3 separate regions of the Homo sapiens genome follow, and all the other regions are linked to region 2. The links come from fine-mapping of genetic effects on gene expression. A gene starts in region 2. Each other region holds a variant in brackets. All regions are shown on one strand. Distances are from middle to middle. Region 1 has its middle 36 kb from the start of LINC00402. Region 2 holds the start of LINC00402 (long intergenic non-protein coding RNA 402). Region 3 overlaps LINC00402 (long intergenic non-protein coding RNA 402).

What was found.
Region 1: its variant is fine-mapped to the expression of LINC00402 in whole blood (INTERVAL, PIP 0.92).
Region 3: its variant is fine-mapped to the expression of LINC00402 in whole blood (TOPMed, PIP 0.98).

What each region holds. Positions count from the first base shown.
Region 1 is chr13:74,264,324-74,269,681 of GRCh38, forward strand. It overlaps a transcript of KLF12 not described here. Among named protein-coding and RNA genes, the nearest start is that of LINC00402, 36 kb to the left of the region's middle. The variant A/G (reference allele first, on the strand shown) is at 3,008.
Region 2 is chr13:74,229,471-74,234,828 of GRCh38, forward strand. LINC00402 (long intergenic non-protein coding RNA 402) reads left to right here and starts at 1,974. Exons shown (of 2, transcript NR_144451.1): 1 at 1,974-2,282. It also overlaps a transcript of KLF12 not described here.
Region 3 is chr13:74,254,389-74,259,746 of GRCh38, forward strand. It overlaps LINC00402 (long intergenic non-protein coding RNA 402), which reads left to right. Exons shown (of 2, transcript NR_144451.1): 2 at 2,545-5,358. It also overlaps a transcript of KLF12 not described here. Among named protein-coding and RNA genes, the nearest start is that of LINC00402, 26 kb to the left of the region's middle. The variant G/T (reference allele first, on the strand shown) is at 2,620.

The sequences.
Region 1 (5,358 bases), 35 kb after region 2:
TGATGATGCTAGCAGAATATTTGGACTCTTATAGCTGTAGAGATGAGGTATCCAAAAAATAAATAAAAAGGGTAGTCTTGAGTTGCCAAGTTAACACATTACTTATCCCCTCTTCAGCTTCTTTGGTGAGAGTTAAAATATTAAATGGGACAGAGTGACATTCTGAATATTAAAATGGAGATATATGGGAGGATTTGAAGGACTTGAAATAGCCACAGAATCCAAATTCTTTAAGCTTCCTTAGCCAGTTGGTGCATTCAAAATAGCTCAGGTAAAAACCCTTTTCTTTGTTGGAAGAGGCAGTCCTTCCCACTCTTAAGTCAGTTCTCTTCAGATCCTAACCCTCTTTCCCCCATTTTCATTTCAAACTGGTAACTGAATTTGGATTTCAGCATACTAATTTATGTTGTCAAACTTTGTGTAATAGTTTTATACAACAAAATAAATACACAAAATAAATATACTTAACAATTTGTATAATAAAATACCTAGGGGAGAATATGTCTTATTAAATTCCAAACATGCTCAACCAAAAAGTGAATAAATGTAGTCTTAGGTTAGTCTATTTTTTTTTCATATAGTGCAATTATCTGAATTCATAGAGAGGGCAAGCTACTTTTAATACAGGAAGCTGTATAGATTATTGATCATGCTAAAGAAAATTAAGATGCCATAAATTATTTACAATAGTACCTAGAAAGAAATAAAATGACCGAATTTATAACATGAATCTCATCTACTTCCTAACTATGTTGCCTAAGTAGACATAGATGACCATTTTTACTAAGGCCTTGAGAAATACTTATGAGGGAACTACTAGTATCTACAAAAATGTGATTGTGGCTTCTCTTGTCAGTTGGGGATATTGATGGGAGGGACTAATATTGAAATAGTCTGCCTGATTACAGTGGAGATTGGAAAGATCCTATGATTGAGAAGGGCAGGTGCAGAAGTCAGGCACTTAACCTCCAGAGGCCATTTATTCGTGCTTTCCCTAATAGAGACACATAGATATTTAACACTGATTTATTGATCATTGAGTCTATAGATCTGAGATATATGGGCAATCACAAAGTTCCTAATAAATTTGCATAAAATCCCCATGTCTCAGGATGAAGCTCACCAAAGGAAAAACAGAGTCATTACTCTATTTCTAGACCTGTGGTCGTTTTCTGGTGTAAATATATTCTGAAGAAAAGAATATAAGTAGACCTTTCAGTTGTTTTAAGATAATGGCTCCCAAATTACACATGTCTGTTATAGAAGAATGGCACTGTGGTTCAATGGTCAGAGTAGAAATGTATGATGTTCAGGTGATAGAGTCTTGACCCAAGCCCATCTCACTGTAGGCATAGTGGGACCTACAGACACATCCTCTTCTTTTTCCCTTCATTTCCTGTGTGTTCTTGGAAAAGATACTCTAGACAACTGGCTAAATACTCACATTTACTTCTTAACTCAGGAATAAGAGTTATTATGAAAGGAAAGAACAAGGATGGAAGTCCTGGATCTCACCTTCCTTACTAAAAGAAAAACCAAGAGCAGTAGGATATTCCCATAGAATCTGAGAGATTAGTGCTACCATCAATGACTGAAATGGTAGGTTGTGGTCATTTCTATCGCAGCTCCATTCAACTCTCCAATTAGTTTGATGGGGAAGACAGATGGGTCTTGGAGAATGAGTGTGGATTATCGTAAGCTTAATTAGGCGGTGCCTCCAAGTGCAGCTGCTGTTCCAGATGTTGTCTCCTCACTAACTCATATCAACAGAGCTCCTGGCAATCAGTCCAGGCTGCAGTGCAATCAACTCTACCTGGCAGCCCATTTGATCCAGCGGATCCAATGAAGCTTGAAGAGTTTGTAGCAGATTGGGATGCTTTATGGAGCTCCAGTAGTAAATTCTCAGTCAAGACCTCTAATATCATTTAAAAAATCAAAGTTATGACCTCTCCAGTAAGTAACTAGTCCTATTTTGAGAAACAACTCTTGAAATGCTACTGGACCTTGGTAGGACTAAATACCTGGCATTATGATCTGAATTTCCCATTATGAATGAGTCACAAGCTCATTCACCAAAAAATAAAGTGAGGAATCCACAGCAGTACTCCCTCAAGTGAAATGCACACATACCCATGCATCCACGTGCACATATACACACACACATATGCACAGGAATGGTTCCAAGCCAATCTTAAATGCACATGTTAAATTGCACAAGGAGGATTCTCATCTTCCTGGTATCATCCTGCTACGCTGCTGTTCTCTCTCAACCCCAGTGGCCTCATGGAAGGATTCCTGTGACTAATTAGTAGCCTGAGATGCCAAATAAATCAATAAATGGATAGATACGTAGATAGATAGATAGCTCTTGGTTTACAGATGCTTCTTCCTGATTTCCTGGGGCCAGCACTGGTGGACTTATGGTAAATGATTGTACTTCTTAATTCAATGCTGGTCCTAAAGAGAAGTAATCCTGTTGTCTAATTTGCCTGGAAGAAGTCATAGATTGAGTTAAGTAATAACAAAAACCAGTGGACCAGTGGGTAATGATTAATAATTTGAGCAGGTAGTCAGAAGCTTAGAAGTAACAAGAATATTTTGGTAGAGGGTAGTGGATATCTTTTTCCATCTGAATGCTCTCAGAGTGGAAAAATATTAGTGTACCATTTGAATGCTTATCAAGAGTCTCTTAAGGTTCAGGATAGATGATAACTCACTCTCTAGATGTCAGTCAGCCTCCCCGCCCATTCTCCTCATACTTGCATAATGATCTCATGAATTATGTAGCAATGGTGATAGTGAAAACTACTGTGTTGGATTGAATGATGGTCCCCAAAAGATATGCCCACATCCTAATCCCCAGAATCTGTGAATATGACCTTATTTGAGAAAGAGTCTTTACAGGTCTAATAAAGTTAAGGAATTTGAGACAAGATCACCTGGATTTCCTGAGTAGCTTCTAAATCCATCAAAATGTATCCTTATAAGAGACAGAACAATAGCCAAG[A/G]TGTGGAAGCAAACTAAGTGTCCATCAACTGATGAATAGTGGTATATATACAGGATGGAATATTATTCAGCCACAAAAAAGAAAACCCTGTCGTTCATGGCAACATGGATGAGCCTGGAGCTCATTATGTGAAGTGCAAAAAGCTAGGTACAGAAAGACAAATATTGCATGTTCTCACTCATACGTGGGAGCTTTAAAAGTTGATCTCATGGAGGTAGAGAGTAGAATGATGGCTACCACAGGCTGGAAAGTGTAGGGGGAAGGAGGGATGAAGAGAGGTTGGTTAATGGGTACAAAATTATGGTTATAGAGAAGAAATAGGCTCTAGTGTTAGCACAGTCAGGTGACTATGGTTAGCAATAATTTATTGTATAGTTAAAAATATCTAGAAGAGAAGATTTGGGATGTGCTCAATATGAAGAAATGATAAATGTTTTAGGTGATGGATACCCCAATTGCCCTGATTTGATTGCTACATAGTATATGCATGTATCAAAATATCACATGTACGTCCAAATGTGTACAATTATTATGATTAATTTTTTAAAAAAGAGGCAGTGGAGGAGAAGAGAGACACAGAGAAGGCCATGTGAAGATGGAGGCAGAGATTGGAGTTACGTAGTCAAAAGCCAAAGGATACCTGGGGTCACTAGAAGCTGAAAGAAGCAAGGAAGGAGATTCTCCTAGAGTCTTCAGGAGGAACAAGGTCCTACTGATGTCTTGATTCTGACTTCTGGACCCCGGAACTGTGAGAGAATGAATTTTTGTTGTTTTAAGCTACTGAGTTTGTGACAATTTGTTACAACAGCCAAAGGGACAAATATACTAAGGAGAGATTCTCTATATTATTTTGCTATCACTGTTGCTGAGGGCTCAATTTTTCCAGTAGAATTATTAGTCCATTTTTAGCTAAGGAGCTAGAACCTGGGTGGGACTTTTGGCAGGGTGATTACTTTTTTTAGTGGGACATCAAGTATTTGTGCCAACTGAAAAACACCTTAAGGATATGGACTGGATTTGTTTTTTCTGCCTATTATATTTCTAGAAGCACCGTTAATTATGGACTTAACAGATGCCTCTTAGCTCATCAGATTATGTCGTCCAACATTTCTCTGGCCATGAAATTGTTATTTTGTGAGTGAAATCAGGTAATATGCTGCTGGTCATGGGATAAGTGGTTTTATCATGTACCCTATCATCCCAAAGCAGCTCACTTACAGTATAATTCAGAGGCTCATTGGAGGATCTCTTACAGTTTCATTTAGGAGTTCTCCTTATGAGATTGGAACTCCTGTTCAGGAGAGCAGTATATGGAATGATTTCTCTCAGAGATAGATAATATGCGAGTCTGGAGAAGAAGGGTGATAGAAAATTTTATGCTTTTCAGGTTACAGCTCATAATGTGCCCTAGAAATTGTGCTAACTCCAAACACTTCTGGCTTAGAGGATTTAGTAAGCAAGAGATGAATGCATCCACCAGGCATTGTAACAAGTGTTCTTTTGAGTTGGAAGCTGAGACAGCTATTTGGTCTTTTTAGGTTCTTCACCATGAGTTGAGTATACTAAAAAGAGGGATTATAGTGCTGTCTGGGGTGATTAATCCTGACACTGAAGAAAAATAGAGTTGCTAGTTCACAGTGGAGGCAGAAAGGAGAATGGACAGAATCAACTGAGACGAAAGTGGGGCTGGGGAAGACCTTTGCATTGCCAAGTATAGCAATAAATTAAAAATGGCTTAAAGGTGACTTTAGTCATATACAGCAGGATCATCTAAGACTTAGAATTCTCAGGAATAAAGGTTTGGATTACCCCAGAGATAATGTTATTCAACCAGCTTTTGTGCCGGCTGATGGCAAAGGGGACATGAAATGAAGGAGTGGGGAAGGCATATTCATCTTCATGATTTTCCATAAACAAGAAGTGTAGTCACTTCTGTATTATTTTACTTGCTCTGTCTCTCTCTCTCTTTGTATATAGTTACATATTTAACTAATCTACCTTTTATTTCCTGCTCATTTCATATAGAGCATACTGAGTTCACAGTATGCTCATATAGAGCACACCACTATTTCATATAGAGCATACTGAGTTCACAGGCTGAACAATATTTATGTGTGATGGAGGCAAAATTAGAGAAGAATAGATTGTGACTAAAGAGCCAAGACATGTATTTAGATTTGTATATAATGGGACTCTGGATGGTCTCCTTGTTGCAAGAGTAAAAAAAATGTGTTTTAATTATACACGATGATATCATTATATTTGGCAGAAACATATTTTTGAGAGAAGGATATATACAGATTTTAATTAGTGAAGGAGTTATAGTTTAGGGGTATTTGTTATATTTTTGC
Region 2 (5,358 bases):
TAAAAAGTAAGGAAGCTCTGGTGACGGTGATGCATGGTAACAACAGTTTTTATTCCTGTCAGACTTGAAAGGGTGAGAATTTGGAAAAGGTAAGAGTTTATGAGATAGTCTTAATTAAAGAAAACTATTCACTTATACCAACACTTGGAAAGTTATCTAAAATACTAACTACTTCTTTTAGGTTGGAAAAATTAGAAGGTAACTGTTCCTTTCCATTTTTTCATAGGTACTGTGGGGCAGCCCAGGAGCCACTAACAACCAAGGCCTGCACCGGAATAAGCTACAAGGATTGGTTTGGAAGGCCAAAAACCTCAGCTGACCCTAAGTCAGTTCTGCTTCTTATACAGACTATTTCAGTCCCGTCTCCCCAGTGTTACCAATGTTGTGTTTCCACCTAATCCTAACTCCTTATCTTCTAAAATGTGACATGTTTCCTTGGCTCTTCAAAGCAAAATGGAAAGAGGGAGAGATTCAAATCCTAATGCTGTCACTTAACTGTGTGAAGATGGGTAGATGAGGTACATTACTTAGTTTCTCTGAGCTGTACTTTTCTCATTTTTAGAATGAGATGATAACACATGATATGATTTGGCTGTGTCCCCACCCAAATCTCATCTTAAATTGTAGTTCCCATAATCCCCATGTGTGTTGGGAGGGACCTGGTCGGAGGTAATTGAATCATGGGGGCAGTTCCCCTGATGCTATTCTTGTGATAGTAAGTTCTCACGAGATCATATGGTTTTATAAGGAGCTTCCCCCTTCACTTGACTTTCATTCTTCTCCTTCCTGCTGCCACGTGAAGAAGGACATGATTGTAAGTTTCCTGAGGCCTCCCCAGCCCTGCAGAACTGTGAGTCAGTTAAACCTCTTTCCTTTACAAACTACCCAGTCTTGGGCAGTTCTTTATAGCAGCGTGAGAATGGACTAATACACGTATCTTTAAGTTTTCTGTGGTGAAGATTAAGCATGGCAGACACAGAGTATGTACCCAATAAATAATAGGTATAATTGTGCTCATCCACACTCTCATCAATTACCTGGCAAAAATTCTATTCAAGGGCTAGGACTCTGCTACTCCACTCCAATCCTCTTCAGTTCCACTATGTTTACCTCAGTTCCCCAACCAAATGGGTAACAGCTGGTTTTGCATGAAAGTGAGCAACTATGGAGGCAGAGGATTGTCTCCTCACGTACTCGGGATGAATTCTACCCCGAGGCACCACACCCTTGTTGGGCCAACTGCACAGAATTCTGTGCATGCACGACTATCAAGTGTTTATCTATTGCCCCAGAAGCAAGCTTCTCTAAACCTGGTGCTTGTTTCTCTCCTATGCTTCCATCTCCTGTTGACCTCCCTTCCAATTCTTTCCAATGTGCCTCATGGAATTTTCATTCTGTTATGAGTAACCCTCTGTTGATCTCCTAGTTTTCATTAAACGTTGTCTGTGCTTCAAGAACACTGAATATCTTTTTGCTGTGTTAAATCCAAAGCTTAGTCATTGGTCCTCATCTTAGTTGAATCCTCAGTACTTTCGCTACTACCACCCTTGTACAAGCTGCTACCTTTTTTTTTTTTTTGCCTGAAATGATACAGTAGTGTATAAACCAAGTATCTCTGCTTGCATCGTCATCTGCCTGTCATGTATGCTCAATGTAGTAACCACAGTGATCCTTATAAAAGTAAAGTCAGGTAAATGTCACTCCTTGGCTACTTCAGGTCAGGGACCATGTCATTTTTTTTTTTCCCTCTGTATCTCCAGGGCTTATCGCTGAAACTTAGCAGGCACTCAGTAAATATTTTGCTAAGCAGTTAAAACTAAGAGAAGAAAGAGGAGGGAGAAATATGGTAATCACTTACCACATCCTCTTTTAACCTCTTGAATATCTTACCAATGTCTTCTTTTGTTCTTACTTTCACATCATTTGATTTGATAAAACAAAACTATTATCTAGAGAGGTAAGGCAGACTTGTGAACTGGACCCGTAGAAGTTAAGTGATGTCCCTGTTTGCAGTGTCAATGAGATTGAGGGCTTGGGCTTGAACCCAACCTTCTCCCTCCAAATAGCCTGCTCTTTCTGTTATGTCATGTTTCATATACAAGTTTGGGAGCCTCCAGCCCTGACTATCCCAACATATACAACATAATGTATATGTTGTCTTTGGAAATATCTTCTGTGAAGGCCAAGCATTTAATATTACAGGAAACCTTGAAGTGGATATGGAAGCTTGGCAGCCAGCTTGGATCTTCCTAAGAGCCTCTTTCCTTCATACCATCTTCAGAGTACGTATCATTCAATAGAGACTCTCTTGCACAGGAATTATTATTATATGCTTGCAAATAGTCTCAACCAAAATCTTTAACCTGGAAATGAAGATGGGCTACTGTCTAGGAAGCCTCTGATTTTGTTATTGGTTTTTATTATCATGTTAGGTTTGTATATTAAGGAGAAAAATTGGCAGAGAGCATCTAACCTATTAAAATTAGATATTCAAAGAAATTTAGTTTTGGGGGGTCTGAATTGATAATATAACATATGGAAGTTAAAATTCTAGAAGCTATGTTTACTATATGATTTCATGGTGTAACAAGATCTGGGAGTAACATAAACTAATCTACCTTCCCTTGTAAACAATCATCTTCCTTCCAAGTCTTGCTGGCAGAGGAAGAGGTTGTGGGACAGTGTGGGAAGAAGGAGGGAGTCAGAGTTAATTTCATTATGTGCTTCCTAAAGAATGGGTTATTCAACAAAAACACTAGTAACAACAGCAACAATGAAACTCCACCTCTCTGAAGTGTATAGAAGATTAATATGATATTTAAGTACATTTTAAATAGATTTTCTATTTCCAAATTGATAACTGTGGTCATGTAAACTTTCATGATCCTTTGCGGCTGACTCTCTTGTATGTCCATTTGGCAGTCTCAGTTTCTGCTACATTAATTTGACCTTGATAATTTATTCATTCATATATGTTTGTATTATTTCTTGAACCAGATTACTATAAGAAACTGTCTTGTTCTTGTCATATCTTTTTCCATGCTCTCACACCTCTAAATAATTATCTAAACCTAAAAAAGGATAAGTACTTTTTAGAAATTTACTTTACATTCAAAGTAGAGTGTCTTATCTAGGTTTGACAGTTTTTACACTCTGAAAATTGAAACTATATCAACAAAAGTAATTTTATACACTGTCCCAAGCTTTTAAGAAAGTGATAAATATACACTGTATATGACATTGAAGTACATTTTGAATAGCTTTTCTATTTCTATCTTGATAATTATGTGGTCCCACGTAGGTCAACAACAACAAAAAAGTGTTGGGCCATCCCATGTAGGTTGACAACAACAAAAAAGTGATAGGTATACAGTGATCTTTATACCTATCAAATTTTGTTGATCTTATTTATTTATTATTATTATTATTTTCTGAGACAGAGTCTTGCTCTGTCGCCCAGGCTGGAGTGCAGTGGCGTGATCTCAGCTCACTGCAACCTCCGCCTCCTGGGTTCAAGTGATTCTCTTGCCTCAGCCTCCCGAGTAGCTGGGACTACAGGCGCGTTCCACCATGCCTGGCTAATTTTTTGTATTTTGTAGAGACAGGATTTCACCATGTTAGCCAGGATGGTCTTGATCTCCTGAACTTGTGATCTGCCTACCTTGGCCTCCCAAAGTGTTGGGATTACAAGCGTGAGCCACCGCGCCTGGCCTGATCTTATTTTATAAAGATACACTGTATACCTATAACTTTTTTGTTGTTGTCGGCCTACATGGGATGACACCAGAACTTTTTACTTTTTTGCGACTTCTTCAGGGCCCTTCTGATCATACTGATTCCATGGTCCAGCAGCCCTGACCTGCTCCATCCACTATGTGCCCTGAAATGCATACCTGTGGTGGGAAACTCCCAACAGGAGCTTATGTCACATATACGTGGCCAGAAAAACACGAGAGTGCCTCGGGACAAGTATTTCACGAGCAATGGAAAAAAGTCATTTTGTTACCAGTTCTTCCAGAAGCATATTCACCCATGCAGATTCATAATCTGTAACACTTAAATACAATTTCTTTGTTTCTAATTACACATTGTAGTTTGGAGAAGCATGATAATATTCAATTAAAAGTAACTCATGAATTGTTTGTAGAAATCCCCGAGATGACTAAATATTCTATATGAAGACAGATGAATGAAATAATTTTAATCTCAAATCTAGAATATACTTTTTAGAATTAAAGAGCAGAGGGTCTTTTATAATAAGGCAACTTGTCACCTTATGGACATCTTCAGATCATCATATGATAAGAATGTTTAATAATATTAAAAAGTGGCATTCCAATAAATAACATGGTAATATTGCGGGATACAAGCTTAATATACAAAAATCATTTGCTTTCTATATACCAGAAATGAACAATTGGAATTTGAAATAAAAAACACAATGCCATTTACATTAGCAACAACAACAAAATGACATACTTTGATATAAATCTACCAAAATATCTACAAGTTCTATATGAAGAAAACCACAACACTGATGAAAGTATCAGTATTGGCTCATTAATTGTAACCAATATACCACAGTATTGCAAGATGTTGATAATAGGAGGATAACAGGTAGGGAGGGGATAGATGGGAACTCTCAGTACTTCCTGTTCAATTTTTTGGTAAACATAAAACAGCTTAAAAAATAAAGTCTATTAAAAATAAGTGCCATCCATGGAATACATATAGAAAAATGCTGCTACATTAAATATTACCTATAGATAAAAATGCATCCCAAGACACAGTACAGCATGTTCAGATGATTCTCTGTGAAGCAGCATAACACAGTGGGTAGAATTCAAATTTTAGAATCAGAAAGACCTGGATTCAAATCTGAACTCTAACTTGCAAAAACTGTGTGAATCTAAGCAAGTGGCTTAATTTTTTTCTGAACCATATTTTCATCATCTGTAAAGCTTGGATAAGAAGGACTACCTTACTTACATGAGATTATGTTTGCAAATCACATGAAACACTGTATGACACACTGTACCTGTCCAATAACTGATAATATCCAATCTTTAATGTATAAAGCTACACTTAAAAGCTGTCCATATTTTTAAAACCAACAGAATGAAGTCAGAAATAAGAAAGGTATTGGAGCAAAGGAAAAGTCATTATGCAAGGAAGGACAAGTTATTCATTCGTTTGGCTATACATACATTTGGAGACCATTCAGTAGATTCACTTACCTACATTTTGTAGGTTTTGCCACTCTTACCTCTTATTCGGAAAAAAAAAAAGCTTCGGAGATCTCTTTCCAAATCTCTTTTGCCTGCTGAAGACCATTATATGTATCGATACCTCATATTT
Region 3 (5,358 bases), 25 kb after region 2:
ATTAATACTACTTATTGTGCAGTTATGGTCTGTGATGTGGCAAGTACTTGTTATTTCTTTTAATTCTGAGAACAACCCAATAAGGCAGGCATTATTAATGCAATTTTCAGAGGATTATAGATACTTACAGCTGAAATCTACACAGAAATATAGCAAAGCTGGGTTTTGAACTCATTTCTAACTGACCTCAAAGCCCATGATCACAACCATTCTGTCCATTGCCTGCTGAATCTAGAAATTCTCAACTGTGCTTCTAAGGTGGTAAAGTTTATAGGTAGCCTCTTCCGTGTGATGTGAGGCTCGGAGCTAGACAGGGAAGTGACTCCTTAAACAGAATAAATACATATATGGTCTAAATCACACCATCACATGCCATGGTTTGCGTGTATGTGTGTGTGTGTTTGTGTGCGTGTGTGTGTGTTTATTTCTCTTTTGTTGTTTGTCCCTTAGTTATTAATAAACCTCGCTGAAATATGCAGGCTTTACCTCAGCTGTGCTATGAATAAGTAAAGAAAAGGTGAGGTGGCCATAAATGGACCATAGAGCTCAAGAGGGAACAGTTCTTCTCACTTTGAATGGCTGCTGCTGTGATCATCAGCCAAGATTGACAGGAATTAGAAGAATGTTGGAGAAAAGATTGGTGCCTGCAAAGGTTGGCTGCCTGAGCTTTGATCAATACTCCTGTCTAATGTCTAGGATTTAGTTTTAGAAATTTAGCATTAAAAATAATATATCTTCTGTAACAGATATTTAGTAAACTAATACTTTAAGGAAGGGACCATTTTTATTATTCATTTTAAGACCCCATAATGGTTAGCATGGTAACTTGTCCCAAGTAAGTGCTCCATAAATACTGGTTAATAAGAGAGACTGAGCCTGTCTTCAAGTTAAAGAAGGAGGGTGTTGGGTACAAAGACAAACTTCACTCAGCACATTGCATGTGCCAGAGTGCATTTTTAGGATTAATGAAGAAATATAACATCATTGTTTTTGATGTATACTCATTTGCTGAGGGTATATAGCCTAGTTAAGTTTTTAGTTGCTTATCAATTAAATGACATTTTGCCTTTTATGTGGTATCATTTAACAGCAGGCTACTAATCAGAATTTCATTGAGCTTTCAATTGCATGATGTAATGAGACCTAAAATGGATATAATTTCAGGAAGTTGTTTTACCAAATTATTTTTGACCTGAGAAGGATATCCACAAAACAGTTATTTGTAGCTTCTATTATATTGAGTGGTTTCTACTTAATTAAAATTGTGTCTCTAGCCTAGAAATTATTTTCTAAGAAATGTTTTCTTGCTAAATAAGATTGTTGTATATAGGAGAACTAACTCTATCTACTGACTGCTGCTGCTTACTGAGGAGACAAATATATTTCCATAAAATTCAAATAAAATGTTTTTAGATTCCAGTCAAATGCCATCATCTAATGAGATGACTGAGATGACATCTACTACCTTAAAGAAGTCAGGAATGAGGCCGGGCACGGTGGCTCACGCCTGTAATCCCAGCACTTTGGGAGGCTGAGGTGGGTGGATCACGAGGTCAGGAGATCGAGACCATCCTGGCTAACATGATGAAACCCCGTCTCTGCTAAAAATACAAAAAATTAGCCAGGCGTGGTGGCGGGCGCCTGTAGTCCCAGCTACTTGGGAGGCTGAGGCAGGAGAATGGCGTGAACCCAGAAGGCGGAGCTTGCAGTGAGGGGAGATCGCGCCACTGCACTCCAGCCTGGGTGACAGAGTGAGACTCTGTCTCAAAAAAAAAAAAAAAAGAAGTCAGGAATGAACTGCTTCAAGGCTAAGACATACTTGGCTCACATCTCTGATATCGGCTAACACTGGAATCAGCATGGCCCAGAGGATAAAAACAATAAACAACACAAACAGAACAAAATAGAACAAAACACATAACTGAAAATAAAGACAACTGAATTCCAGTCCCAGCTCAGCCACTGTTGTGCTTTGTGGGTCTTGTTCTTGTACATTTCAAATCAAGAGGATGGAACTTGTTCATCTCATTGTTGTGAAGATGAAAAGTTGAGTAACTTGTGGATCTGGGTGGGACTGTATTAGGGACTGGTACAGTAAAACAATTAAAATGAAATGATCCACAGGAGACACTTCCATCAATAGGTAAGTTACAGTGGGTGGGATAATGAGCCCTTCAACCCACCAGCGAATCAGTAGGGTAAAGCTAGCACTTCAACACATTGGTGGTGGTGGTAGTGAGGGGGTGAGTTTATACAGCATTAAGCTTTTCTTTTATTAGTGGAAAACTCTGAGTAGAGCTTGTGTGTGTGTGTGTGTGTGTGTGTGTGTGTCTAAGATTTTCCTATCTGTTGCCACGCTGTTTTGGAAACGGCCTACTATTTGCAGACTCACTGTCATTCACTAGTCCCGATTTTAATCACTGTTTGATCTTATATTACACATGAAATGGTAGAATAATAATTAAATTTTGTGTCACTGTCCCTGAAGACATATTTTCATATATTAATTGCTGATTAATCTTCTACTTTTTTTTGTTGTTGCAGTTGTTATTCCGTGACATCTTATCTACTTAAGCAGCTAACCCATGAGGCATCCAAAACAGAGAGAAAAAACAGAGT[G/T]AACATTTTGCCTTATGGAATTGTCAAAAGTTGCGGTCGAAACACAGGCAAGATTTGGAAGAATCTGTAATGAGCCAGGGCCAGTTTTCCTAGTTATAGAGCCTAGGCTGGAGGAGGTACATGGGCTGGGGAAGGAGAGGGAATTAGAGATTGGCTGTTCCTGGAAACTCTCTGCCTGTACTCCATGGCCTGAGTCCCAGGACCTGGAAGCGGCTGAAAATCTGAGATATAGAAGAGACTGGTGCTGCCTTTCTGGGGAGGGCTTGGGAAAACAGCAAGTTCCCTGAATTTTTCCATGGCACAGGAGCAGATGAAATGTCATGATTGGTGTCCAGGCTAGTGGACTGAGTTAACTCCCGAGAGTCCCTGTACTCTCCAGCATGGCACGAGGAGAAGCAAACCATTTTCCTATGCAGCCATAGGAAAACGGTACAAACACGACACTGAAATTCAGCTGACCGCAAGAGCTTGATGGTCAGTGTGAGCCAGATGGAGCAGGAACATGTATGGATGGAAAACCCAGATCCAAAGTTCATCCCCCTCTCCCGTGGATGCTCCAGCACATTGCAAGGTTTCCCAGAAACTTAGAGGCAACCTTGGCACAAGGACATGATTTGTTGGAAATTAAGTTTTGTCACCTGGGGGACTGCGAGCTTGATACGGAAATTAATTCAGTTATATAATTATAAAAATGATGCACTTTCTACACATCTGATTTTGTGAACCCAAATTAGTTTCCACAACGCAACTGTGTTAACATTTGCCAACCTCTGGGGCAACATTGGTTGTCTTTGTTGCTTTTTTCTAGAAGTTTTCAGCTCAAACTCATCTTTCCCTTTTTTATTTTCATTTCTAAATTCTGGTGAGTGGTGTTTTGATAAGTAGATATCAGCTATTTCCTGTCTTACTTGAAAAGTCTTCTCTGTATTAAATAACAAAGGTCACTTAGATAAATATCTTCTCATTACCAGAGGGTAGGGAACTGCTTCTCCTATACATAACTTCTATTATCTTTCAATCCAGAAAAAAAAACGTGGCAGGAGGACAAGTTTTTGAATGTTATGAATCGTGATTTCTGTGTCTAAAATCTGCTCTTTTGTTAACACTAAGGGCAACTTCCTTCAAAGTGGTTCATCTTGGTCTATTACTGTGTTTGTGTGTGTGTGTGTGTGTGTGTGTGTGTGTGTGTGTGTGTGTAGTAAAACCAAAGTTTCCTATTATTTTTGAAGGTATTTGGCCCTGCTGGAAGACAGCTATGTATAAGTTGAACTTGGCAGAGAGAAAGGGAAACCAGATCTTACTCCCAGGCCTCCTGTCACCAGCTGTGTGACTTTGCTGAAGTCATTTCTTTCCCCTAAGTCTCAGTTCCAATACCTATAAAGTGAGTGTTCTGCCTGTGTGTGTTTTAGGTCTTTATTAATGTTGAAATGTCCTGACTTTATGGGTTCTCATTCACTGTGATGTGGTAACCAAAACAAGCAGAGATTAATAACCAGGACTCAATAATGTAAAACACTAAAAATTATATTTTTGCAAATTTTTGTAAACGCGGGATCATATCTCTCTCAGTGACAGTATTGGTGTGATCCATTATTGTACATTTAGTGGATAAACAGAATGTAACTAAGAAGTGTTATCTTTGTTATCAGGGGAACGTGGAGTTGGATGTGTATGATGGGGATGGGCAGTTAATTCATAGGTTAAACACTCAACGAGGGAATATCTCTTTATCGCTATCTCCAAAGACTCCCCACTCTTCCTCAATTTTCTTAGTAACTCACTGCTCAGACTTAGTTTCCCCAGAAGCAGACTATGAGACCAGGATTTGATGCAAGCAGTTTTTTTGGAGTTGATCTCAGAAAGGCTAAGAGAGTAGAGAAGTAATACAGAGAAGTGAAGAAAGCTAATAGAAGGTCCCGGTGCTCTCTCCTGAAAGAGAGCGCTGGAAGACTGAGTAGAACATGCCCCAGAGTTGTCCCCCTCTGCTGGGGCAAGAGAACTAGGGTACTGATCAGCTAATTTCCGTGCTTCACTGGTTAAGGGCATTAACCTCCCCAAACTTCTGGCCTGTGCCCCAGATAGACCAGGCATGCTTCTGTGGCCAGAGAAAGCCCGAGGATGGAGAGTCACAGATGCTTGTGGTAGGTAGCAGGTGGTGTGTATGGAAATGGGAATGGGATGCCAAGGGGATTTGGGCAGGGCACCAAGCATCTGCCGCATTACCCTAATCCAGGCAATAACACTCACAGTATCCCAGGGATTCCCCTTCTAGCCTCGAATTCCTCTTATTCTCATTTATTTTGTATTTACTTTCTAGACCATAGTTTCTCAGATAGTAAAGGTTCTACTGACTTTCCTCATCTCTCTGCAACCTCTTTCCTGCCTAGCTTCTCTTCCATGGTCAAGCCAATACACACAGAATTTTGCCTTCCATTCTTCACTCAGGTGTTTCTTCCACTTGGAATCTGTTCCTCAGTCATTTTCACTAATCCATGTCCCTCCCAGTACACAGAATTTTTCACAGAAAACATAGTTAATCCTTTAAAAATATATTTAGATTGACTTGCATGCCCCTCTTAAGGTTTTTTCTTTCCAAATGCCTTTTTTAAAACCCCAATTTAAGAATTTCTTTAGCCAATACTACAACAATGCAGTCCTTGTTCTCCACTTCTTTCCTTTTATCTACTCAATGTTATTAATCTTTTTAGTGTAAACATCAGTAACTCAATCGAGCCTTTT